Homo sapiens: one gene and its partners. The protein of the gene in region 6 purifies or fractionates together with the protein of the main gene of each other region. This does not show direct contact. Each region holds a gene or a part of one and is shown on either strand. Other genes may lie near its edges. The genes, in order: ITPRIP, XPO4, CDYL, ACAD10, CDC42BPA, MLNR and BTAF1.

Region 1 (2,633 bases), on a different chromosome or scaffold from region 6:
GTGTTGTTTATAACAGCAAAAAGTGGAGACAACTTAAGTGTTCCTCAGTAGGGAAAGTTGGGTAAATTATGGTACATGCATACAGACAGTGAGATAGTAAGCAGCCATATATATATATATATATATATATATTTTTTTTTTTTTTTTTTGAGACAGGGTCTTACTCACTCTGTCACCCAGGCTGGAGTGCAGTGGAGTGATCACGGCTCGCTGCAGCCTCTGCCTCCCAGGCACAAGCAATCCTCCCACCCCAGCCTCCGGAGTAGCTGGGATTAGAGGTACACGCCACCATGTCTGGCTAATTTATATATTTTTTGTAGAGACAAGGTTTGCCATGTTGCCCAGGCTGGTCTCAAACTCCTGGGCTCAAGCGATTTTCCTGCCTTGGCCTCCCAAAGTGCTGGGATTATAGGTGTGAGCTAATGTACTCGGCCAGTAAGCAGCTAGTTTAAAGAATAAGGTAGAGCCAAATGTTCAAAAAGATAACCAAGAAGAATTAGTCGGTATGATGCCATTTATGTAAAAAAGGACTAAAAGGATGCATATATATATACATACATGTGACACATACACAGAAAAATTTTGGAAGGATACACCAAAAACTTCATATTGGTTATCTCTGGGGAGTGGACTAAGAAGTCAGAAGTGGGACCGTTAGTCTGTTACTTAATTTTCCTGTTAGTACTTGAATTTTAAAATTATGACTGTATTATTGCTTTTATGTTTATTTTTTAAACAACAAACTAGTTAAACAAGCAAGCTATTTTTGGATGGCAATGAGAAAAGTTAACTCTAAAAGATGCCCTTCCCAGGGACAGGGGTGGGGCAAGGCAGAGTGGGGCGGAGAGGGAGGGCCCTGTTGAAGGCACACATTGCCCTTCACTCTGTGACTCTTGGCTCCCTCTGCTTTCGGTCGCTGGCCAAACCAAACAGCCTTCCAGCTCTGTCCCGTGAGGTGGAGATGAGACGGACCACGAAAATGTTCTGAATCACAGCCTTGGGGTGGCTTGAGTTAAGACTTCCTGGACATTCACCAACCACTGCCAGCTGCCACCAACCCTGCTCGGGAAGCCGGCCATGTACCCTACAGCACAGGACATGGATGGCACTGATCACATAGATAAGGACTCCTTAGTTTGGGGGTGAATCAAGTTACTGTCTCACTCAAAACCCGCCAATGGCCCACCTCTGCTTGTTGTGAGGTCCAAATTTACCTTGTATTAGCATTCAAGGCTTTGCATGGTTCAGCCCCACTCTTATCTTTTCAACCTCATTTGCTACGACTTCTCAGTATATGCCAACATGTACACCAGGACTGCCTGGGTTGGAATCTGGGCTGTGCTACTTACCACTGTGACAGTAGGTAAGTCAGTTGCCCCTTCAGTGCCTGTTTCCTTATCTGGAAAGCAGGGAGGATAAGAATAGCACCTACATCATAGGACTGACATGGAACTGTGTGCATTAACAAATGTGTGTGCGGAACGGTGCCTGCCATACAGTAGGTGCTTCCCACCCTCACTCCATGCTTCTGGCTGGAATGTCTTTCCTGGCCACAGTCCTGGTCATTTTTCAGAGTCTCTATCTGGCAGCGCCCCACCATGAGGCCTTCCCTAATCAGCCCAGGTACCAGTGGTTCTTGGACATCCAGAATCAGGTGGGGAACTTGGTGAAGTGCAGATTCTTCTACCTAACTTCTCAGGATCCCACTGGAGTCTGTGACACGGCCCAGGAAGCTGCCCCCAGGTGACACCCGTATGTGTAGTGCAGGGTCACACTTGGAATAGCTCAGTACTTGGAAGGCCACCTTCTGCTGCCTCTCCTAGGGAACAGGCTTGGTCCTATTCATTTTCCCATCTTCCACAATGTCTCATGCACGTTAGGCTCCTGACAAATGCTTGTGGACTATTCATGACCTGCTTGGGAGAAGGGCTCACCATCTTATGCCTTCCCACCCTCTCTCTGAGGCTTACGGCACTAGCGTGAATGTGGGTGCCCTCATGAGAAGCTTGTGGTGTAGCTGATGCCACTTAGACCACAGATTCCAAGCAGGCTCATTGGCTTTTCCCAGGTCTATCTATCTTCCAATAGATCTGTAGGGAAAGTAGTCCACTTGGGTTTTCTTTAACTTTCCATTAAGAAAGAAAGTGAGAGGGCTTCCTCAGCTAGGGGTACCATCAGTCACTTGGGGGAAATCTTTAAAAATCGAGCCTAGCCTGACCACTCCAGACTGGATTCTGAGCACCATGTAGGTTCAAGGCGGGGTCGGGGCAATGGACCAGGTTGTCTGGGTGATTCGGATGACACCCTTGATGATGAACCAGAGCTCCACCCCCAGGTTCTCAACGGGGGCTGTGCTTCAGCCAGGCATGCAGAGGGGCTAGAGCTTTTGAGGATATAAGGCCCTTCCCCAACATAACCAGCCTCTTGGCCTAGGGGCCAACTCTATTCATTTCACCCTTGTTATTTTGCAAAGCAAGTGAGCAGTTGCTGGGGAAAGTCAAGCATCCTTGGGAAAGAGACTCTGGGGAAAGAGGGCAGGGTTGTCCTTAGTGGAAAGGCCAAAGTCCCCTAGAGGACTCAAAATCCTCTATTTAAAATACAATCTCTTTCTTTAAAACCCAAAAGCTTCCTGT
Region 2 (3,500 bases), about 28 Mb from region 6:
AAAGAAAGAAAAAGTTAAGAACTCCTGGATTAAGCAGAACTGACCTGAAGAAAGTTAGAAAACTTGGGTGAAAGGCTGGGCCTAAAAACAGACCAGAAAGAATTCACTGAGGAAAAGTGAATTTGTACAGTGCTTTTCAGACTATCTCACCTTGGTACCCCTAGTTAACTGCAAAAAAAATAAAGAGTAAACCTTCTACACTGTGAAGTTGATGGTACCTAGCTCAGGGCAGATATTGGAAAAACCGTTGCCCAAGAATTTAAAAAAAAAAAAAAAAGACATGGTCCAGTGAATAAGGAATACGAAAAAATTAAGGAAACAGAACAATCTCAAGGATTGGGATAAATAAGTCAAGTGGATATTATAGCACCCAACTTAGAAAGAGAATCTTACAAGGAAGAAGCCAAAAATGTCCACTACCACACGTGTCTGCACAACATATAATAGGAGAGGCTAGATATGATTCATTTTTCTGTCATGAAACAGGATCCATTTTGTTTGAAGTCAAGGTTGGCAGTGAGATAGGAGGGGAGTGAACTCTACAGCACTGAAAACTATACACATATATGAGGTTTAAATTACTGATCAGGTTCTTGCCTGTAACAGCAACTATCTTTTACCTACTGATTGTCAGACACAATGCTAGGCACCAAAGACACTTTACAGCTGATCCTTCAAACACACTGAAAGGTATTTATTATCATACCCATTTGACCAGCTAGTAAAGACACAGGTAGGCTAATCAACTCCCCTCACATCATACTGTAGGTGAGACACTAGGCTAGGTCTTCAAAGTGTGGGCTGTTAACTCCAGAGAGAGTGCTTCCTACACCAACAGGGCTTTCCAAGCCACACTCTGGAAAGTGCTAGGGTTTCTGGGGTGGCCACCGTGAGGAACATGGAGAAGTGATTAGTCAGGAAGTGTAACTCTGAAGAGACTGGCATCTGGAGTCACAGGCTGGGATTTGAATCCCAGTCCTGGCTAAGTATCTGTGGCCAAGTGACTTAAGCTCTCTGTGCTTCTGTTTCCTCATCTATAAAGTGAGAATAACAATGGGATTGACTTCATACCATTGTGAGAGGTAAGAACAGTGCATGGCATTTAGTAAGATCTCAATGAATGAGAGATACTATTTCTATTATTCTTACAAGAGGAAAGGCAAGCAGGAGGGCCACTGGTCCTCACCCTCACTTTGACCACAAAGATCTTCTTTCATTTATTCCATAAATTGAATTTCCTCATGAGATGTCTCTTACAGAAAACAATCCTTTGATTTAATAAAAAGGAGGATAACAACAAAGTTTAAAAACCATCACGTTACATTTTACCTGTATCACTGAAATCTATGAATTCTTTTGACAGCAGGTTAGTAAGAAGTTCCATAATGAGAAGCAGGTCTTGGTATTGCTCTTCTTCTGCTGTAACATCTATTCTTTGCCGCCCTAAATTATTCTTAGAATACACTTGCAACAAAGTAAGGCAGGCTTCATATAAGTTCATAGCTTTGGACTGAAAAAAAAAAAAATGCACAAATTATGCTACTTGGTACACTGACATTAAAAAAATTTTAAAATATAATCTATATAAATTAACTCCGAATTCCAACAGTAGCAATAATTCTTGCTTTAAACTACATTAAAACAATAATTTCTAGAAAGCATATATTAAGAGTATATTTTTTTTAATTTTACCCCTTTTCTAACAAAATTTTAGGACAAGAATTTATATTCAGGTGCAGCAAACCACCATGGCATACATATACCTATGTAACAAATCTGAACGTTCTGTATATGTATCCTGTTTCCTTTTAGAAGAAATTAAAAAAAAAATTTACATTCATTCAACATGACTTTCTCTAAATTATAAGTTCTTTTCAAAAATCTTTTTTAAAAATCTTTTGAAGGAATAAAAATATTATTTAAGATAATACTAATCAAATTTTAAGCAAAGATCTATTATTTTATTACAGCTTCAAAGAGTTTTAATCCTGAGGGGATAAAATTAGAAAGTGCTTACCTCTCCAAGATAGCATATCTGTTTATGTGCAACTTCAACAAAAACTTCTATAATGAGATTGACAGTCTCTGGGGTATTCTTGTAAACTTCCATCAATCCAATGCAATTGGTAAGGAAGTCCATTAAAAAATTAAACAGGATTGCTACGTTGTCAATCTGGGTAGCCTCAGCAATGCCACACAGGGCCTCTAGTGTGGCAGTGATTTCCTGCTTGACTTCCTCTTGCTGACACATCTGCTGGAAGTTTTCTTGGTTTATCACTCTTAAGAATCGCTGCTGAAGTGGCTGAAGAACCTATAAAAATAAACCAGGAATTTTCTTAAAGCTCAGTTCTCATGCTTTATTTCCTCTGCTTGGATACATATTCACTTTCCAAAACATTTCTAATTGTTGGAGGCAGGACAAGCACATAACAAAGAATATCTAAACCAGACTTTACACTCCCCATTTTGAGGGTCATCCTAACTTTCCGCTCATGTAAAGCCAGAACACCCAAAGCATGGGACATAACTGTCTCCCTGCCATTCAAAGAATTCTGCCATTTCCCTCCATCTCTTTCCAAGTAATGAGTCAAAAAGGAAAAAAAACTTTGTTTACAAAATCAGACAGTAAGCCACATTTGGCCCATGGGCTGCAGCTTGCCGACCTCTACAGAGTGAAGCCCAATTCAAAGTTCTTGTCTGTTTTTTTCCTTTTTCCTTTACCTAATTCCTCTTGGCACAGAACGTAACTTCAGATAATCAGTCCTGCCCTGTATATAAGAGTACTCATATTCAAGAGGACAGTATCTTAATTCGACTTTAAGTTGTCCATATGATAATACAATTGTTTAAAATAAAAATACTTAGTCAGTCTGGTTTCCCCTGGATTTGAAGTCACAAACAACTGCCTAATTCCATTACTGTGCCCCTTCTCAAACACTAAGGGCCCTCTAGACAAGGACTGCAGGCTGGCAACCTACACACACTGGCAACTCTTGGCCCTTGATTTAAAGCCTATTAAATAATGTGCCCATGGTTGTTGTTATGGGTCAAACTGTGTTCCTCAAAAACTCATATGTGGAAATCCAAACCCCAGGATATGAACTTATTTGATAATAGAGTTGGCCGGATGCAGTGGCTCACACCTGTAATCCCAACGTTTTGGAAGGCTGAGGTGGGCGGATCACTTGAGGTCAGGAGACCAGCCTGGCCAACATGGCAAAACCCCGTCTCTACTAAAAATACAAAAATTAGCCAGGCATGGTGGTGCGCACCTGTAATCCCACCTACTTAGGAGGCTGAGACAGGAGAGTCGCTTGACCCAGGAGGTGGAGGTTGCAGTGAGCCAAGATCACACCACTGCACTCCAGCCTGAGTGACAGAGCAAGACTCCGTCTCAAAAAAAAAGAAAATAGGGTTGTCATAGATGTAATTAGTTCAGATGAGGTCATACCGGAATAGGGTGGGCCCCTAGTTCAATATAACTGATATAGAAAGGGGAA
Region 3 (3,500 bases), on a different chromosome or scaffold from region 6:
CGTGTGTATATATACACACACATACACATGTGTGTATATACACATATACACACACACACACACACACACGACTTTTGTGGACAAAAAAGGGGGCTCACAGATCTATGGCCTCCTAAGAGCAGAGATCAGGTATCCTCTCTGTAAAGAGCCAAGTAGGTCAGATGCAGTGGCTCACGCCTGTAATCCAGCATTTTGGGAGGCCAAGGCAGGTGGATCACTTGAGGTCAGGAGTTTGAGACCAGCCTGGCCAACGTGGTGAAACCCTGTCTCTACTAAAAATACAAAAATTAGCCGGGATTGGTGGTGGAAGTAAATGAATGGATAGCTCCATTCATTCATAGTAATGGATGGTTAGCTGTGTTCCAAGAAAACTTTATGTGTGAACACAGAAATCTTAATTTCTTATATTTTCACGTTAGTAAATATTCCTCCCGATTTTTTTCTTTTTCCAAAATCAGGAAATGTAAAATCCATTCTGAGCTTGCAGGTCATACAAAACCAGGAGCAGGGCAGGGCCAAGCCCACGGACTATAGCTCATCAGTCCTTTTTGGTAGCACTACAGTCCAGCACCGTGCCTGGCCCCCAAGTCATCAATGAAGACGGAGGTGCTTATCTGTCCAGGAGGCAACAAGCAATGCTGGGAAGAACGCCAGGGAGGCACTAAGGCACGCGCTCTGGTTCCCCTTCTGGCTTCGGTTCTCTCCATGAACATCATCTTCTCTCTGGACTCGACTTCCCTAACTGCAAAATAGAGCGTGCTATTAAGTGAGTCCCTTCTACCTCTGAACTTCTCTGATCCCTCACATACAACTAAGTAAGAGAAAACTGTATCCATGAGGTCAAACAATATAGGAAGTCAAACCTGCAAACAAGTTCACAAGCTCCAATGAAGCCGGAAAAGGCACCGTTTGGGTCAAGTGTGTATCTGAAAAACATTGGCAAGATGGCAATTTCCTGTCAAAGGGAGACCCCAGATTTCAGTTCATATTCCACTTTTTTGCTACACAAGGGCCTGGGCCGAGGAGAAAACCTGTTGAATGCACCAAAGCAGGACGGTTAGAATGTCTTAGTGAACACTTCGCTTTAGAGGAAAGTAGCTCCCCAAACAAACCAACACCATTGTATTTTGTTTGCTATTATTCTACTGAGCTTGGGTTGGAGGAGACACACACAGGTAAAGAGACGGAGTCTCTTTTTTTTTTTTTTTTGGGAGACGGAGTCTCACTCTGTCACCCTGGCTGGAGTGCAATGGCACCATCTCGGCTCACTGCAACCTCTGCTTCCTGGGTTCAAGCGATTCTTGTGCCTCACCCTCCTGAGCAGCCGGGATTACAGGTGCGCGCCACCGCGCCTGGCTAATTTTTGTATTTTTAGTAGAGACGGGGTTTCACCATGTTGGCCAGGCTGGTCTCGAACTCCTGACCTCAAGCGATCTGCCCTCCTCGGCCTCCCAAAGTGTTGAGACTACAGGCATGAGCCACCACGCCCGGCTAAAGAGACAATTTTAAGACTACAACTCAGAAGGGAGAGAGAGGAGAGGGCCAGGTGGTGGGGGCCCCTGAGCAGATGGAGAGGAAGGGACCACGTGCGGCCCTGGTGCTGACAGAGAGAGCGAGCCAGAGGGCAGCGGAGCGCCAGGTCGCAGACACACAGGGCACACCTGCTACTGAAGGCAATGGGGTGGGGGCACCAGTGGACACCACCCTCGTCCAAGAATGACTGAAAAGGGATGGGAGCTGTCAGAAGGCAGGAAGCAGGAAGCCCTATTAGAAAGCTCCAGCAGGTGAGAAGTCATGAGGCCTCGTAAGAGAAAACTGTGGCCGGCACAGTGTGGCAAGTGAGGAGAAGGAAGCCACCCATGTGAACTCCCAGTTGTGCTGTCCTGGGAGATGGACAGGTCATGGCACAACCAAGGCAGCTGCAGAACCCAGGAGCGGGGCTGGGGATGAGAGTAAAACAGAGGACACCACCGGTGCCAGGCAGACTGGGCTCTGACGGGGGAAGCAATGGCACCTGCACTGCCGATCACAACAGAGAAACGAGCCCGGCTCCCAAAGGCTCTGCTGGGTTAGCAACGCTCCCACTGAAAGGCATTCCTGGGTATTCACACAGATGAGCAAAATAAGAACCTGCACTTCTGTATCAATGCTGGCCACACTTAGAAGAAAACGCTTAACACGAGACAAGACTCAGCACTTCAGAGGTGAAGAAAGGTAGACAGCTTCAGAAACTTGCTGTAAAAACTTATCACCTAATAACCTAGTTAGAGGGAGATACTGTTTAAAGCAAGTCAGTGTGGTAGCACAGTCTGTGGATGGCGAATTACACAGAAAAAACTAGTTGCCGAATTAAGAGAAATATCAAAGGCTTCCAGCGAAGAAAGGAGAAGGCGAAATCTCTGCAAGGCTCCAGCAGATGCCGTGAGAAGCCCCGGACTCTGCCCAGCTCAAGGCCTGATCTCTAGAGAAGGACCCGAGCCCTCTGGGATCACCACGGAGCCTGAGCAGCTCCCTAGACACTCACCTTTCCCGTTAACAGCTAAGCCTGTGGCCATGGCTGCAGTCACAGGGCCGGGCACCTGAGGCACTAGTGGGTGTATCCTGGGCCTGCTCCCCATCCTGGCCCTCTCGGCACCGGGGCCCAATAAAGCTCCGACCGGCTTTTCCGCTGCCACTTCGGGTGCCACTGTGTCCTCCTGACCCTGCTCGACGGGGTCCAGTTTCTCAGGGCTCTCGCTCTGAAAGCCGTCCACTGCGGTCCTGCTCTTAACGGGGCTTTTAGGCACGAGGATCTTGATACCTGACTTCGCTAGGTCCATGTTCTTCCGGCTGGAGAGAGATGGAGCTGTGTTCTTCCTGAACTTCTGGCTGGCAGCAAACAGCTGGCTGTTTTTGGATTCGTGGTCTTTCCCAATCACGAGTGCCTTAGGAGAGGTCTTAGAAAAGTTGCTGTTGGTGGATCTGGAGATTTGTTTCCTAGCATTGTTGGGAGAGGTCCTGTTTGTTCTGGTCAATGTGCTCTCCTTCTGCTTCTCCGTGTGGCGTCTGTTGAAGTCGTGGATGTATTCCTCACAGTTCACGAGGTGCTGTTCCGGCTCCCAAGTGTCGTCCTCGCTGTCATAGCCTTTCCACCGAACCAAATACTCTGTCTTCCCTTTTTTATTTTTCCTTTTGTCAACAATCCTTTCAACCTGTTCATAAAAGGAAAAAAATAGTTTTAAAAAAATCAAAATTTGGGGGGAAAAGTGCAAGTTTCATTAGGAAACATCAAAAATAGCAAAAACCACAATAGATGATAAAATGATCTCTTCTGCAACCTCAATAAAATAGTAATAGGCCATTTGGGTTGTGGACAATTTCCCTGAAAGTAAGTCAAACAAGATGCTAAATTTTTATGCTGAGAACGTGTGGATATGCATTAGGTGACTTATGTTTCTTGTGACTGAAAGGGGCTCTCTGCTATTTCTGTGTTGAAGCCTGACCACCGAGTTGGTTTCCAC
Region 4 (3,500 bases), on a different chromosome or scaffold from region 6:
CACTGAGGTCAGTTGTGGGTGTGATTCGAAGTGCCTGTTGGAGATGGGTTAGAGATGTCTGGCTGGCCCCTCTGAGCTCCAGGATGGAGGCCTGGTTGGGAGGCAGTGCAGGCAAGTAACGCCCTGTGCCTTCTTCCCACACAGCCTCAGCCTCACCATGTGTGTCAGGAGCTGTTTCCAGTCCCCCCGTCTCCAGTGGGTGTGGAGAACAGCCTTCCTGAAACACACCCAGCGCAGGCACCAGGGGTCCCACCGATGGACACACCTTGGAGGCAGCACCTACAGAGCGGTGATTTTCGACATGGGCGGAGTTCTCATTCCTTCTCCAGGGAGAGTCGCTGCAGGTGAGCTATTGATTCTGTTTCACTTTGTGGGACTAGAGTGGTGGTGGGAGAATGGAGGGTGATCGGGAAGGCAGAGGGGAACACTTGGGCAGCAGTGTGTCCCAGCAGGCCATGCTCTGGCTCTCGAGTCGAATTCCAAGCACCACTAGGGGGCTGAGTGTCTTGGGCGCATGATTCAGCTTCTCCAAATCTTACTTTCCTCATCATTAAATGAGCTAATGGTAGTGCCTTCCTCCTTGGGATTTGGCGGAGAGTTATCCGTGGGAAGCACTTGCTTAGCACAGTGATTGCTCAGTGCATCCTAAATTCTCAATCAATGATGAGCTGCCATGAATGCTGTGATTAGAATTTAACCACCAAGGCAGGGCACAGTGGCTGAAGCCTGTAATCCCAGCACTTTTGGAGGCCGAGGTGAGAGGGTCGTTTGAGCCCAGGAGTTCAAGACCAGCCTGAGCAACATAGTGAGACCCCGTATCTGCAGAAATTTAAAAATTATCTGGGCATGATGACAGGCACCTGTAGTTCTAGCTACTCAGGAGGCTGAGGTCGGAGGATCACATGAATCCAGGTGGTTGAGGCTGTAGTCAGCCGTGATCATGCCACTGCACTCCAGCCTGGGTAACAGAGCAAGACCCTTACTCAAAAACAAACAACCAAAAATCCCAAAGAATTTAACCACTTCTTCTTGGGAACTGTTCTACTTCTGAAATCTAGAATGCTGAAATTCCCCTTTTGATTACAGCCTTCCTCCCTTCTACCCCACTCCCTCTAAACCTGCTTCTGGACTGACAGGGTAAGGGTCAGCCCTCTGGTCTCTGGTCTTCTCTTTACCAGCCCCTTCCTGGTTTTACTTCTTTTCTACTCAGTTCAGTTTTTATTAGTTAAAGTCGTTTTGGCTTCAAGCAGTAGAAAACCTAACAAAACAGTGACTGAAACAAGCTAGAAGTTTCTTTCTCTTGCACATAAAAGCCCAGGTATGTGGTCTGGGGCACTGTGTGATGCGACTCTGTGGTATCAGGGACTCCGACTCTTTATAGCATGTTGCTCTGCTGTGACTTTTCATTTCCACTCTTACATTGTGGTCTGTCTTGGCTGTGTCGCCTCCTGCTATCATATTCTCATGCCAGCCAGCAGGAAGGACAAAGGGCCAGGCAGCCATCCCTCTCCTTTTGACCTTCTGTGGTGGCTGGTTGGCCAGTTCTCCATCCTAAATCAACCCAGGCACAGGTTTTCTATGCCTGCGTGTCTAGGCTTTCCAGCACTGCTGACCAAATTACTCAGCCGTGCTAACTGGCTGCACAAGCTGGTTTCTGAGCTCCAGCCTCAGTTGGGCCATTGGTGCTACGCCTGAGCCTCTCTGTTCCTTCACTCTTATCTCTCTGTTCCTTCACTCGTATCTCTGTCATGTTTACCTCAGGGGCTGTTCCAGACTGTCCACTCCCCCTGCTCCTTACCACCCCCAAATATTCTTGCTCTGCAGATAGCTGAATCTGTTCTTCTACAAAGAACATAAAGACTAAACCTGAGCAACACAGTGAGACCCTATGGTGAGCTAGGATTGCACCACTGCACCCCAGACTGGCACAACAGTCTTTTTTAGAGAACCTGTCTCTAAAAAAAAAGGCAGCAGGGAAGAACATAAAGATCACTGGACAGAAAGTTTCTTGACTTTCTCTAGAATATCTTAAGAACCAATTCACTTCTCTCCATTGCCACTGCCTCCACCCTTGCCTTCTCTCACCCAAATGATGTCATCAGCCTCCTAACTTCCTCTGCCTCTGGCTCTCTGGATTTTACAAAATCTCCTCCCAGCTCCAGAATTAACCTTTCTAAAACATGGATCGTGCTTCTGCGCTTAGCAGCTCACACCTGTAATCTCAGCAATTTAGGAGGCCGAGGTGGGCAGATCGCTTGAGCACAGGAGTTCAAGACCAGCCTGGCCAACCTGGTGAAACCTTGTCTCTACGAAAAATACAAAAAGCGTACCTGGGCATGGTGGTGCATGGATGTAGTCCCAGCTACTTGAGGGGCTGCGGTGGGAGGAACTCTTTAGCCTGGGCGATTGAGGCTGCAGTGAGCTGAGATTGCACCACTGCACTCCAGCCTGGGTGACAAAGTGAGACCCTGTCACAAAATAATAAATAAAATAAAAATAAAGCATAGATCTTGTTCCTTTCATCCCTGGCTTGAAAATCTTGAATGCCTGCATGTGGTCCCCTAGATTAAGTCTAGAAGCTTTCACCTGGGATTCAGGGCTCCTCTCAGTTTTAGCTTTCCTGCTATGGACTACCTGATGCTCCCCAGGCATGCCAGGCACATTTGCATGTTTGTGCCTTTGCAAGCTGTGTTTCCTCCCTGCCTCCTCTGCCTGTTCAAATCCTACTGATGCTTTTAATGGCAAATTTAAGGGGATATTATTCAGCAATGACTGGAATCTTTTGAACACTCAGTAAATCTCATGGTTGTTACTAACTTCAAGAGTCCTCTTCTGTCAAGACTTCTCCAACCTCATTTGCAACCTGGGCAGAATGTTCCTGGATAGCCAATTCCCATTAAGTTTCACCTTCACCGAGATATTTTTGTTTGCAGTGGGATATGTTCATGTCTCCTCTATGGGGCTCTTGGATTCCAGGACCCCAGGTCTGGGATTTCTTCACTTCACTGTTGCAGTGTTAGCTCTGCAGGCTGGCTCAGTCATTCAGGAAATGTTTGATGGGTAAATGTGAACAAAATAGTGATGCCTTCTACTTTGTCTTTTGCTTGACTGGAGCTTCTAATGTTATTTATTTCAAATGAACCATATCAAGGGTCATTTGATAAGAATATACTAGAATTGGCCAGGTGCGGTGGCTCATGCCTTTAATCTCAGCACTTTGGGAGGACGAGATGGGCGGATCACTTGAGGTCATGAGTTTGAGACCAGCCTGGCCAACATGGCAAAATCCAATCTCTACTAAAAATTCAAAAATAAGCGGGGCATGGTGATGGGCACCTGAAATTGCAGCTACTCTGGAGGCTGAGCAGGGAGAACCACTTGAACCCGGGAAACAGAGGTTGCAGTGAGCTGAGATCATACCATTGCGCTGCAGCTTGGGAGACAGAGCAAGACTCTGTCTCAAAAAAAAAAAAAGTATATATATATATACACTAGAATTA
Region 5 (4,128 bases), on a different chromosome or scaffold from region 6:
GGGGAGCTGTAGAAAACACTTGCAGAGCCAGGTTTTGCTGGTTTGGGGCATGCCCTGGGCACCAGAGCTTTAACATTTGAAGCCACTTCAGCAGCAGCAGCAAAAGGCGAACTCATCTCTACCCAAGATGTTTCTTTTCCTAGTGGTGGAATTTGAACACTTCTCACTTTTTATTGTATTTTATCTTCCGCAGATAAATGTAGAAATACACGATTCTGTCACCTCTGATCCCTTCCATCTGAAAGGTTACAAGGAGTGTTGTAGCTTCTGAAGGTGCAGAAAACAATTTCTAAAAATGCTTTTATTCCTGGGCTAATCCTGTCCCTCCCTAAGTCACAGCGAGGTGTCTGTCCCAGGGCTGGAGATGCTTCCCAAGGAGGAGTCTGTTTTGTTGAGAGTGGGCGTGGGCTTCTTCACATAAGCCTGGGGAAGGAAGAAAAAACGGCTTTCATTACCAAATAATGTAAAACCTCAAAAGCAAGGGCTTCAACAGCCTTAACCAAATATTATTCCCCATAGCCAGTGGAAAATGGATGTGACAACCCCAGTGCGCAGGCCAGAGTGAGTGAGCCCAGCACGGCGCTCCGACTGGCTTCCTCTCTCAGGTGCTGGATTGTGGGGTTAGTGGCATTTCCAGCTGGATTCCTCCTGTTGTAGTTGCCATAAGGAAATGAGATGCAGAATCAGAAGGATCTATTTCTACAGAATCATTTCACCAGTTAAGCACATGAGTAGAGAAAGAGATAAAAATAAAAGTATCTCATGAAGGAAAGAGATTTTGCCTCTCTTTTACTTTTCACCTAAGTTTCTCTGAGAAATAGAGACAGGATTCTCTCTTTAAAATTCAGTGAAAATGAAGAAAGTTTTCCTGCAGTTGCTAACCTGAGTTGCAGTGTTTAAGGCCATCATTTCACTGCTGCTGTCTGTGACTCCACGTCTGTGTCACTGAGGTGACCTGCGTGTCACTGAGGTGGCCACCATGCTGGCCTGCGGCATGTGCAGGGAGCTGAGGCTGTTTCCAGGTGATGCTGCTGTGTGGAGAAGGTTCTGAGATGCAGTGAGGGAAGAAAGGATCCTGCTGGGGATTCCATTGTAAGCACCTATAATCGGGAATTTTCATGTAACAGCTTTGACATTTAAACATTCTGAGTTTGGTGCCAGCTCAGATTTGATTATATTTTATTTTGGATGGGTGTAATTCACAGCACAGTTCTAATCTCCCAAATCTTTCTGCTTTTTAGAATGAAGTATAAAAATACTTTTCTCACCTGAATACCAAGGGTTGGCCCTTTAGTTGGATCATTGTCATATGACTTGGTAGATCCTTGTCCTCAGCACCTCACGTGAGAGAAGGGAGTCAGCCAGCCGGCCCCCTGCTTGGTGCTCGTGACCAGCTCGCACCCCTTCTGTCCACCCTTCTCTCCTCTCCTCCCCACTCTCCCCACCCTCCTCACTCTCCCCACCCTCCTCACTCTCCCCACCCTCCCCTCCTCTCCTCCTCACTCTTCCCACCCTCCCCATCCCCACCCTCCCCATCCTCCTCTTCCCTTTCCCCTTGCCTTCTCCTCTCTCCCTTCTCTTCTCAGGCAGGGAGGAGGCCATCCCAAGCCGAGATTAACAGGACTTGACATAAGCCATTAGTTTGTAGCTTTGACAAGTAATTATGAATTTTTGTTGCTTATAGGTGCTTATTTTGCAAAGGATGCTTTTAAGATCAAAATAATAACCCTACCTAAAGTCTAGCTCCACTGCTATGGGTCATACTCTTCAGCCTCCCAACAGGGCAGAGAGAGAGAGCTACTGAGGCTTGTCTAGGTTGCCAGGCTAACTGGGCGACTTGTCCATATTCACCCCATGGATTGCACCATGGCACTCTTTGATTTTTCCACTGCAATGGCAAGTAATCTCATCAGTCATAATAGAGCAGTCCCGAATGCGTGCAGATTCTAAAAGCAGGGCTTTAGGAGAGAAACACTGCCAGGGGGAATAGTTTTGGGGAGGGTTTTCCCAAAATAACGGTCATCCTACTGGGTTTATCCCACCCTTAAATATGAAGCCTGTTACCTCCAGAAGCTTCTGAGAAGAATGATGTGAAAAGACAGGGAGTGGGTTCTAGGCAAAGAAAACATAATGACCATTCAGAGGAGTCAGTAGCACAGCTCACAGATAAAGTATTTTATTACTATCTGAAGTTTTCTTTTGTTTTCATGCAGGACATTTTAAAAACGTATATGGCAGCAGAAACCTGTTTCTCAATAGAAAAAATACATTCAGAGGCATTTCTGGGATAGTCTATCTGTGTTAGTATTTGGTGCTATCTATGTCCAGCCAAGTTATCTACCCTCAAATTCTGACTAATCATGTTTGTGCTTTGGGTATTTAAAATTACATACATATATATTCTTTTTGCCAAAAACAAAAGTCTTGCTTCTTGTCAAATGATTGCTAAAGTAGATCTTACATTTTTTGTTATTATGTATGTATTTATACACATCCCCAACACACTTAGTGATTTCTGTTATTTCCTAGGGAGCACAGCTTTAAGGCTATGAGATACAACTAAAAGGAGCCCATCTATTTGGTTTTCCAGCCAATTATTGTACTCACATTTCAGGGGAGAATCTGAAATTCCTGTCATGTTTACAGCAACAATCTATCATTCCTGGCTAGCTCTCAGCCTCTCTCTCCTTCCATAGGTTAGAATTATGTCATTTTGTTACTTAGTGGCCACGTCTATTTCTGAGAAAGACTGGTTACATTTATGTGGCATCTCAGGTATCATTAAGGAAAAGCCAGAGCAGGGGTGAGCAGAGGTCAAAACCACAGACGCAGCAGGGCCATTTGCCGCCTTTGGCCGGGATCACAACCACTGCAGTCTCCCAGCAGGTAGGCCTTGCCAAGCCTAAGGCTCCCCATCCAATCTAGACAGAGGGGCGCTCAGAGCAGACTTTGCCGTAGCCCATGTCTGGTGAGCACAACAGGGAATGAATTGGGCACTCCACTCCCCCGTCTCTCTGGCCCAGCCCTGAACTAGATGAGCTGCATTTCATGGAGCCCATTTTAAAATCTCTTTCCTTATGACTTTGTTACTCAAGTCCAGAGTTCTCTGTGCACTTCTGCTAGATAAGGAGTGTAAGCCCTGCCCCCCAGCACTGGCAGCACGCTGGGCCCTCCCCACACAGGACACCGTGCAGTTCCGGGGGAAGCTGACTCAAATCAACCTTGAAATCTCATGAAAACAAAATGACTTGTCTTTTTATTTGATAGTGTAATATCATTCATTTTATAAATTTTTTAGGGTTTTTCTCGTAATATTGTACAGTTTTGCATGGCCTGGTGTGATCATTTTTTGGTTAGAATATAATGCTGACAAATGTGGATGGAGGGGAAGATACTGCTTTAGCCTATCACTCCTTATTTTATTTTGTTTGGTTTTATGCCCTCAGTGTCTTAGGGAACTTTTTAAGAGATCCTCTGCTACCAAACAATGATGTGGATTCTTTTGCACAGAAATATTTAAGGTGGGATGGTAAAAAATGTCACAAAAGACTCCTCACCAATACTTTATGTTGATATCACTTAATATTAACCAGACTTTGCTGTATTGCAATAAAACAGAGAACTGTTAGCATTGAGTATTTTGTCTCTTTTCCCCCCACTTGAAAGTCTGAGAAATAGAGAAAGGTGCCACCTCTCCGCCTGTCACTTCTCTTCTTTCTGCTGGCCTCCTTCCTCATCCAGGCTGCTTCTTTATGCCGTAAAAGGACATGGGGTTAGTTTGCCCCTGTGGTTTAATCTAGGACTTTCTTAATTTCTTCCTTAGCTCGGGTAAGAATGATGTTCAATTCTCCTGAAGCTTTCAACTCCCCTCTTCTGGCCAGAACTTCGCTGTTGCTGTTACTTCGGTCCACAAGACCAAACCCTGGCTGCGTGAGGTTTCCTGAGTGGCCCTGACAGTGTGAATGTGGGAGCAGTTTGATTTTGTGTCACTTAAACAAGACGGACTGTTACTGCTTTTCTGGAGTTAGAATGGTTCATCTAAGAACATACAGGGAAGGTCCAGGGGTGGGGTTAAAGGAACTCCTGAACTGGTGGCAGCTAAGTAGTTATTCGGAGAATACTTCCGGT
Region 6 (4,037 bases):
AGTTTTTGCAGCCATACATAGGTATTAAATCATTTCTTGGATCAAAACTATCATTATCCTGGTTCCTTGTAGATGTACTGTTACATTTACATCCAAAACATAAAATACACTCATGATCTCAGAGGTGGCAGTTTTGGGGCAGCATCTTTGTGTATCATTTAACTGTAAAATGAACAATCATCTTTCCGAAGAGTAGGAGAATGAGGACTTCATGAAACCATCACACAAGAGCACACTTTGAGATGTGGGATTTCATGATGGTAAAATCGACCTTCCTTAGGAGGTACGTGGGAAGGAAACTAGAAAGGTTGGCGCAGTTACATTTCATACCTTGGTTAAATAAATCATGCGGTCTATTTCTTAACCAACTGGCACAACTGCAACCCTCTTTCCATTCTTCTTAACAGGATCTGTTCCTCATTTGCAGTCTTTATTTCTCTACACACCTGTTTTCCCCAAAGTCTTAGAACTGCAAGAGGAGCCTGGCTTGGCCGTGCTGGTTATCCCATCGTCTTCACGTTAGCGCTTGTCTCGGTGTAGCCCACCGTGTCTCCTCCAGTGTCCCCTGCAACTTCCCCCGCAGTGTCCCTGCTTCTGTGGAAGCCTCTCGGCCTGGACTTCCTTGCGAGCAGCAGTTTAAAGGCCGCCGCTCTGTACTTCTTTGAAATGAGGTTGTAGAGGATTGGGTTGATAGATGCGCTCAGATAGAAAAGTTGCAGAGCGACGATGTTAAAGTACTGAGAGAAGTACATCATCCGCGAATCTTCCGTGTTTATGTAAATGATTCTGCCAACGTGGAAGGGCAACCAGCAAATTATAAATGCCAGAACCACCACCACTGCAACATAAGACACAGCACCGGGATTAACAAAAGCATTGGGAAGCAAATAAACCCCCCACCCCGACAAGGAACCATCTGCAATAACAAGTAACAGCAAAATAAATTAGAGAAAACTTCTACCTAGGCAGATCCTCACCCCAGAAAAAATGACCAGGCTGCAGGCTGCATGGATACTTGCTTTAAAACTGCATAGTAGGCTCCCATATGTGTTATCAAGGCTGGACATAAACCAGAAGGAGCAATTTCTCTGAACAAGCCGCCTTGGCAGGCTTCCTTCCACAAACCCACTTCGGAGACAAGTTTTCTGTTCTCTGTTGAAAAGAATTCTACAACAGGTCTGCACAATCTTTACTTTTTGATACGAGCAAGGTTTACTTTAGCCTTCAGCATCACTTAACATTAAATAAAAAATTTTAGCTTAATGAAATCTCCCTCGTCTTCTCAAGAGCACTGTGAGGACTCCTCATCTGTGGCATCTAACAGGTGGTTGGATTAAGAATTACCAACTCTCCTTTCTGGTCTCAGAGGCTCTGGAAAAGCACTGCTGGTTACTGAATCGGATCCGGGGATCCCACCCTCAAAGCGCCCTGGGGTCCCCCAGAGCTCCTGGGGGACAGGACATGGTTTTCTCGGGGGATGGGAAGTACCGGCGGGTGGAGGCTGGAATCGAAATAGGAAAGGGAGCTGGAAGCGGCGCCCAGAGCTGGGCGAGCAGGGGAAGGGGACCCAGCGTTTGCGCGGTCCCCGGCGGGGCGGACTGCAGGCAGGCGTCTTTGGAACCACGGCGGCTCCACTTACGCAGGACGCGGACGGTCTGCCGGTGGCCTCTCTCCCGCCCCGAGGCGGCCGGGCCTCGCAGCGGCCGCCGGCTGCTCCACAGCTCCCGCCCGATGAGCCCGTAGAGGATGCTGAGGCACAGAAAGGGCAGGAAGAAGTAGGCGGTGGTGACCCACAGCATGACACGCAGCGCGCCCAGCTGCGCGGGGCTCGGCCGGCATTCGCGGCTGAACAGCGCCGCGGCCTCCGCGGTCTCGGGCCCCGACGGCGGGGACGGCGGTGGCGCCCGCGAGAGCCAGAGAGGCGGCGACGAGGCGAGAGGCGAGGAGGCGATCCGCGCGGTGCCATTGAGGCCCGGGACTACGGAGATGCCGGGGTCCTGCTCGACGCCCACCAGGAACAAGAAGGGACCGGCAGAGAGCAGCGCCACGGCCCAGAGCACAGCGATGAGCGCGCGGACGCGGCGCCGGGTGACCAAGACGCGGGCGCGGAGCGGGCGGCAGATGGCCAGGTAGCGCTCGACGCTGAGCGCGGTCATGTGCAGCAGCGTGGCGTAGGTGCAGCCCTCGCCCACGTAGAGGGACAGGCGGCAGAGCAGCGGCCCGAACACCCAGGGCCGCGAGCGCCAGAGGCGGTACAGGTCGAACGGCAGCCCGAGCAGGATGAGTAGGTCGGACACGGCCATGCTGCCCAGGTACAAGTTGGTGGTGGTCCGCATGTCCCGGTAGCGCCCGATCAGCATCACGGTCACCACGTTGCCGCTCACCCCGACGACGAACAGGCACAGGCACACAGCGGTCACCGGCACCAGCGCCCCCAGGGGAAAGGGCGAGCAGCGGCGCTCGTCGCAAGGCGGCAGCGCGGGCCACGGCGGCTCCCGCGCCCCCTCGGGGCCGTCGCTGCCGTTCCAGGGGCTGCCCATGGGTGCTCCGCGCGGCCGCCGCGTCCCGGGTCGGGCTGGGAGCCTGGCGCGTGGTCCCTCTCGGTGAGCGCCTCCTTTCCCAGCCCGCACGCTGCGGGCGCGGCAGGTCAGACGGCGGAGCGCTGCGCTGCGCTGCGGGGCGCGAGAAGCGGCTCTGCGGGGTGGGCTCCGAGGCGCTCCCGAGCTAGCTGCGCGCAGTCTCCGCCCACGGCCGCGGCCCGCCCCGGCCCGGCCCTGCTCCGCTCCCGCGCCCTCTCCCGGGCCCATGCAGTTCCAGGGCGCTTCCCTCTCCACTAACTGGAATACCCGGCGCCCTTAGCGCACGAGCCCTACCCGGTCCGGTGAGCGATGTCTGCACCCTAGACAGCTTTGGTTACAGGACTGAGCACTGTACGGGCGCTTTTGTCAGTCTGGTACTCCGGGCACCTTCGAAGGGATCTGGTCTGGTGGCTGGTAGCTGCCGCTTGACGGTGGAGGAGGGCTCATGGTAATCCTCAGGAAGCCATAATGCTAAATAATAGGAGGGGAGTCTAGACCAGAATCTAGAGCCTCTCCTGTCTAATCCTGGCTCTACAACCGAGTAACTTGTGTAATCTTGGGCTAGTCCTGGTCTCGCCCAGCCCAGTTCTCCTCTTCTGTAAATTCGCGAGTGGTGGAGGGAGCTGACCATATAATTGACCAAATAATTTCTTTTTTTTCTTTTTTTCTTTCTTTCTTTCTTTTTTTCTTCTTGAGACAGGGTCTCACTGTCGTCCAGGCTGGAGTTTAAGTGGCGCGATCACAGCTCACTGCAGCCTCGACCTCCCAGGCTCAAGCAGTCCTCCCACCTCAGCCTCCTGAGTAGCTGGGAGCACAGGAGCGCCCAAGCCCCGGCTAAATTTTGTGTTTTTTGTGTAGTCAGGGTTTCGCCATGTTGGCCAGCCTGGTCTCGAACTCCTGACCCCAGGTGGTCCACCCGCCTCGACCTCCCAAAGTGCTGGGATTACAGGCGTGAGCCACCGCGCCCGGCAGTGACCAGATAATTTCAAGGATCCGTGAGCATGTTTACTTATTATAAAGAACAAGACAAATATTTACGTGGACACTAGAGTACTTTCACATGTGATATGTCATTCTTATGTACAACATGTTTTATAAACTTAAAAAACTAGAGGATTTGTCAACACCGGAAAGAACGAAAATTGGGGAAAGGGGCTAAAACGGATGTTCAGTCTGTTCGGTGTGGTCTTAATAACAATAGCTAACACTTACTGAGAATTTAGATGGATCTGGCCCTGTGCTCTCCATTTAATCCTCATGGCCCGGGGCGCTCCTTTCGCCCATGAACAAAGCGGTCTTGCTTGAGATCAAGCAGGCAGTAAGAGGCGGGACTGGGATATGGGCTCTGGTCGGCCTAATCCCAGAGCTTGCAAGCCTGACGTCCTACTCACTGCCCAGCTCCACCCCCTCAGTGGCTTAAATCCTCAACCTCTTCTCTGGAGTCTCGATTCTGGACCT
Region 7 (3,500 bases), on a different chromosome or scaffold from region 6:
GAACAAGTGTTTAAAATATTATTTCCTCATCATACACAATTTAATCCATATAAATCAAGGTTCCATCTTTCTACACCAAAATACCACACCTGAAGGTCACCAATGAACTCTTAGGCTCCAAATCCAATAGTTTTTTACAAGGTCAATTTTTCTTGACTCTTCTTTGACAGCTGCGACCAGCAAGCACCCCATTCTTACAATACTTTCCTTCCTAAGTTGCACATTATATTACCCTGTTCTCCAAACTCTTCTTTCCTTAGTTCTCCTATTCTTAATACTCTTAATATGAATATCGGGAGAATACTCATATTCAATCCTTGACTGCTCAACTCTCATCAGTTTCTCCCTGAGGAAACTGTATACTGTTATTTGTTTAAATTATATCCAGAACAAATATTCCCCAAATCCAGGCCATCTGAGAGTGCCAGTTTCACACTCCCAACTGCCTTGTCATCCTGTTGCCAGATTAACTTCCTAAAACGCCCCCGAATAAATCACTACCTTACTTTAAAACTTTCAATGGCTCACACTTACCTACCAGAAAGTAATCCAAAACAAAAAGTATCTCCCAAATGTGGGTATTTTTGGTTTCCACAATTTTACCTATACTGTTTCCTCCACTCAGAATGTCTCTCACACCCCTTCAAGCTAGGGTTACAGTGGCTCACCCCTCCTCAAGGGGGTGGTTTCCTGGCCAGTTTCTGCCAGATCCCCAGAATGGTCACTGGTTGGGGTTGCAGTGGGTATGTACTCTGCCTCACTGCAACAGCAGGCAGCTGTGCAGATATAATGGCCCCATGTGTGAGACTGGGAACTGTTGGTGGGAGGCACAGCTGAGAATATGGGTATATCACCTGGAATTTAACCAGATACACCACTAGAGGTGATCTTCGGGTGTGCCTGAGCTTGCTTCTCTAACAAGAGAATAAAATGTGCTACAGCAAACAAATAAAGTATTTTTCTCTTTGTTCAACTGTTCAGCTAGCTCCCATCCAACAGGATTCAGCTGAAGTTCTTCACCTTCTTGAAACCATTTCAAACTACTATGCAACAGAGATTACTTCCTTTTCTGAAATCCACATGAATTCTCATCTTGAACAGCTACTTAAGTATTTATTATATTTTTTTGTGGCATCTCTCACATTAATTTGTCACATGAGGTCTAATTTTCCTCATTAGGCTTCATCTCCTTCAATCATTCTTTTTGTCTCGCACAACACTTTGCACAGTATTCAAATATTTGTTATGTAGTTGACATTTACTGTAACTAAAACTATACTTAAGGAAAAGTTCAAGTTTCTTGGGGACAAGTTTAAGAACCAACTTTAAGGAAAGAAAAAATATTTTATATTACCTTTTTTTTTCCTGCTTCCTTTGAGAAACATCCTTAATCTGTGACAGCAGTTTTACATAAAAAATCAGTTGGTAATGTAATGTTTCAGTAACTGAAAAGATCAGCACAGCAGTACTTCAGCCTTCTGAATGAGGCAGTTACGCTTGTCCCAAATAGCAAGCTGAAAAATGCCATGCAATAGGCACTGTATTCCTTCAATAATTTCCATCCTTCTTAAACTTTTCCTTTGGTCCTCTGCTACCCAGCTTCACTTAGAACTCCTGCCCAAAGACCTTAGACTCCTCTCTAACCTAATTGCTGATACTGTCCCACAGACACACAGTTCCTCTTGATTCTCCTTTTTGCAGATCCTTTTATCCCAATGCTATGTCAGGTCACCTCTGCTCTCCCACCAGCCAAATGCCCTGAGGGTAGCAGATCAGCTCATTCTCTCATCCATTCCAAGCCTGTTTATCCTTACTTCTTCCACTTTGGATGGTAACCAAAATTGCCTCCCTGAATAGAGGAATGGAGACACAAGAATGCTTCTTTGATTCTCTTGATTTAAAGCCACTTTCGTAGTTCTCCATTCCTCTCTTCAGGACAGCAGATTGGACACCACATAAAAGGAAGAACAAAGAGATGAGCAGACAAAGATCTGACAAGAGGGCAGTCTGACCTGTTATCTCAGGATAGCCAGCTATGAGGCAAGCAGGGTAAGCATCAGGGCCAGGCCACGGTGGAAAAGGCTGGTACAGTGAACTTGTGGGGAAGAGGAAAAGAACGTGAGACAGAGTCAGTATTATGTTGGAGGGTAGACAGGGCCCTTGGTGAGGGAGAGGTCTGAAGGAAGCTAGATGGTCAGAAGAGAAGGGAAAGTTAAAAGGAGGGCTGACTGAGGGAACACAGTACTTACTCCCATACTACTTTTGGCTAAAACTTCTGTTGCACACAGCTAGCAGGAAAAAGTAACATTCTTCATTCTCTGAAGGATAGACAGACAGATGGAGGAGACACAGGTAACAGATGTCAAGTTGCATGGAAGGTACCAAAGACTATAGAAGATAAGTAAAACATAAGAAAATTATATTTTGTAATATCCACTGGTTATAAATTTATTGAGAATAAGAAATCTGGCCCATTTTCAATCTGGATGTCAATTCCGAGAATTAGCTAAACAAGATATGATTCATGTAACCTGTGATTTCAGGCAACTGTTCTAAAGACTGCCTAGAAAAAGGAAAGAGTACATAGTAGTAGAGGTTATGCTAGCAGTTGCAATCTAACCCCTCTCCTCTCCAGATGTTTGCATTATGTTAATTCATAACAGTAAAGCCATAAAAATAAACAGAAAGAAATGTCATGCATTTTAAACAATAAAACATGTCCTAGATTACTACGTCATAGTTAATAAACAAATACATACTGTATTTCCACTCTAAAACATCTCGGGAGGGGAGGGGCAAAAAGCCTCACTGATATTTTCAAAATATATTTAACCTCTCTGATAAATTAGGAAAGGTCAACTGACAGAATACCTCAAAAAGACAGCTTTGTGGCCTTAACTAAAAAAGCATGACCAGTCAAGAGTAGCCATTTAGTTATACATTTTTTACACGTGGCAAAAGTACAGTAAAATTTTAAATATAGATGATTTGAATGTTTACTTTTCTGTGTTACTCAGGAAGTAAGGAAAGATAATGACCATTACTTAGTATAGTGTACAGTGTGTACTTAATACGTGGAACTTAGTACAGTGCACATATTATCATTAAGGTCAAAAGAAACAACTTCCAACAAATTCTCTAGTGTTTTTAAACATATACTTTCTAGGTCATGTTGTGGGTAATTTGAAACTATGTTAATGTTATGTTGTTTTAAACATAAAGATATCACACAGAACACTAAGAATCAATATGAAGGTGTGAAACCATACCAAAGCCAGGTGTAAGGGCAGGTGCTTGCTAGATAAGTTACCCCACTCTACCCTGGACCATAAACTCCATGAGAATGGAGAGTACAGTTTTTTTCTCTGCTATACCTCTAGCACCTATAACATAGAAAGCACTCAGTAAATATTGGTTAAATGAAGAATGGTGAAAATGTACAACCAAGCTATGCTATTTCCTTCAAGACATTTTTTTCTACCCTCCATCCCTGATCGAAC

The links.
Region 1: the proteins of MLNR (region 6) and ITPRIP purify together in Homo sapiens (affinity purification with mass spectrometry; one large-scale study listed by BioGRID and IntAct). This does not show direct contact.
Region 2: the proteins of MLNR (region 6) and XPO4 purify together in Homo sapiens (affinity purification with mass spectrometry; one large-scale study listed by BioGRID and IntAct). This does not show direct contact.
Region 3: the proteins of MLNR (region 6) and CDYL purify together in Homo sapiens (affinity purification with mass spectrometry; one large-scale study listed by BioGRID and IntAct). This does not show direct contact.
Region 4: the proteins of MLNR (region 6) and ACAD10 purify together in Homo sapiens (affinity purification with mass spectrometry; one large-scale study listed by BioGRID and IntAct). This does not show direct contact.
Region 5: the proteins of MLNR (region 6) and CDC42BPA purify together in Homo sapiens (affinity purification with mass spectrometry; one large-scale study listed by BioGRID and IntAct). This does not show direct contact.
Region 7: the proteins of MLNR (region 6) and BTAF1 purify together in Homo sapiens (affinity purification with mass spectrometry; one large-scale study listed by BioGRID and IntAct). This does not show direct contact.

The regions. Positions count from the first base shown.
Region 1 is NC_000010.11:104,309,200-104,311,832, forward strand, and holds the end of ITPRIP (inositol 1,4,5-trisphosphate receptor-interacting protein precursor), read right to left. Parts: 3' UTR 501-2,633; downstream 1-500. UniProt on the Homo sapiens protein: Enhances Ca(2+)-mediated inhibition of inositol 1,4,5-triphosphate receptor (ITPR) Ca(2+) release.
Region 2 is NC_000013.11:20,794,747-20,798,246, forward strand, and holds part of XPO4 (exportin-4), read right to left. Parts: intron 2,312-3,500; coding exon 2,018-2,311; intron 1,511-2,017; coding exon 1,330-1,510; intron 1-1,329. UniProt on the Homo sapiens protein: Mediates the nuclear export of proteins (cargos), such as EIF5A, SMAD3 and isoform M2 of PKM (PKM2). In the nucleus binds cooperatively to its cargo and to the GTPase Ran in its active GTP-bound form.
Region 3 is NC_000006.12:4,891,404-4,894,903, reverse strand, and holds part of CDYL (chromodomain Y-like protein), read right to left. Parts: intron 3,192-3,500; coding exon 2,525-3,191; intron 2,519-2,524; exon of another isoform or gene 1-2,518.
Region 4 is NC_000012.12:111,692,553-111,696,052, forward strand, and holds part of ACAD10 (acyl-CoA dehydrogenase family member 10), read left to right. Parts: intron 1-144; 5' UTR 145-157; coding exon 158-344; intron 345-3,500.
Region 5 is NC_000001.11:226,989,365-226,993,492, reverse strand, and holds the end of CDC42BPA (serine/threonine-protein kinase MRCK alpha), read left to right. Parts: 3' UTR 1-3,628; downstream 3,629-4,128. UniProt on the Homo sapiens protein: Serine/threonine-protein kinase which is an important downstream effector of CDC42 and plays a role in the regulation of cytoskeleton reorganization and cell migration. Regulates actin cytoskeletal reorganization via phosphorylation of PPP1R12C and MYL9/MLC2.
Region 6 is NC_000013.11:49,218,841-49,222,877, reverse strand, and holds MLNR (motilin receptor), read right to left. Parts: upstream 2,541-4,037; coding exon 1,640-2,540; intron 839-1,639; coding exon 501-838; downstream 1-500. UniProt on the Homo sapiens protein: Receptor for motilin.
Region 7 is NC_000010.11:91,930,270-91,933,769, reverse strand, and holds part of BTAF1 (TATA-binding protein-associated factor 172), read right to left. Parts: intron 2,389-3,500; exon of another isoform or gene 2,250-2,388; intron 1-2,249. UniProt on the Homo sapiens protein: Regulates transcription in association with TATA binding protein (TBP). Removes TBP from the TATA box in an ATP-dependent manner.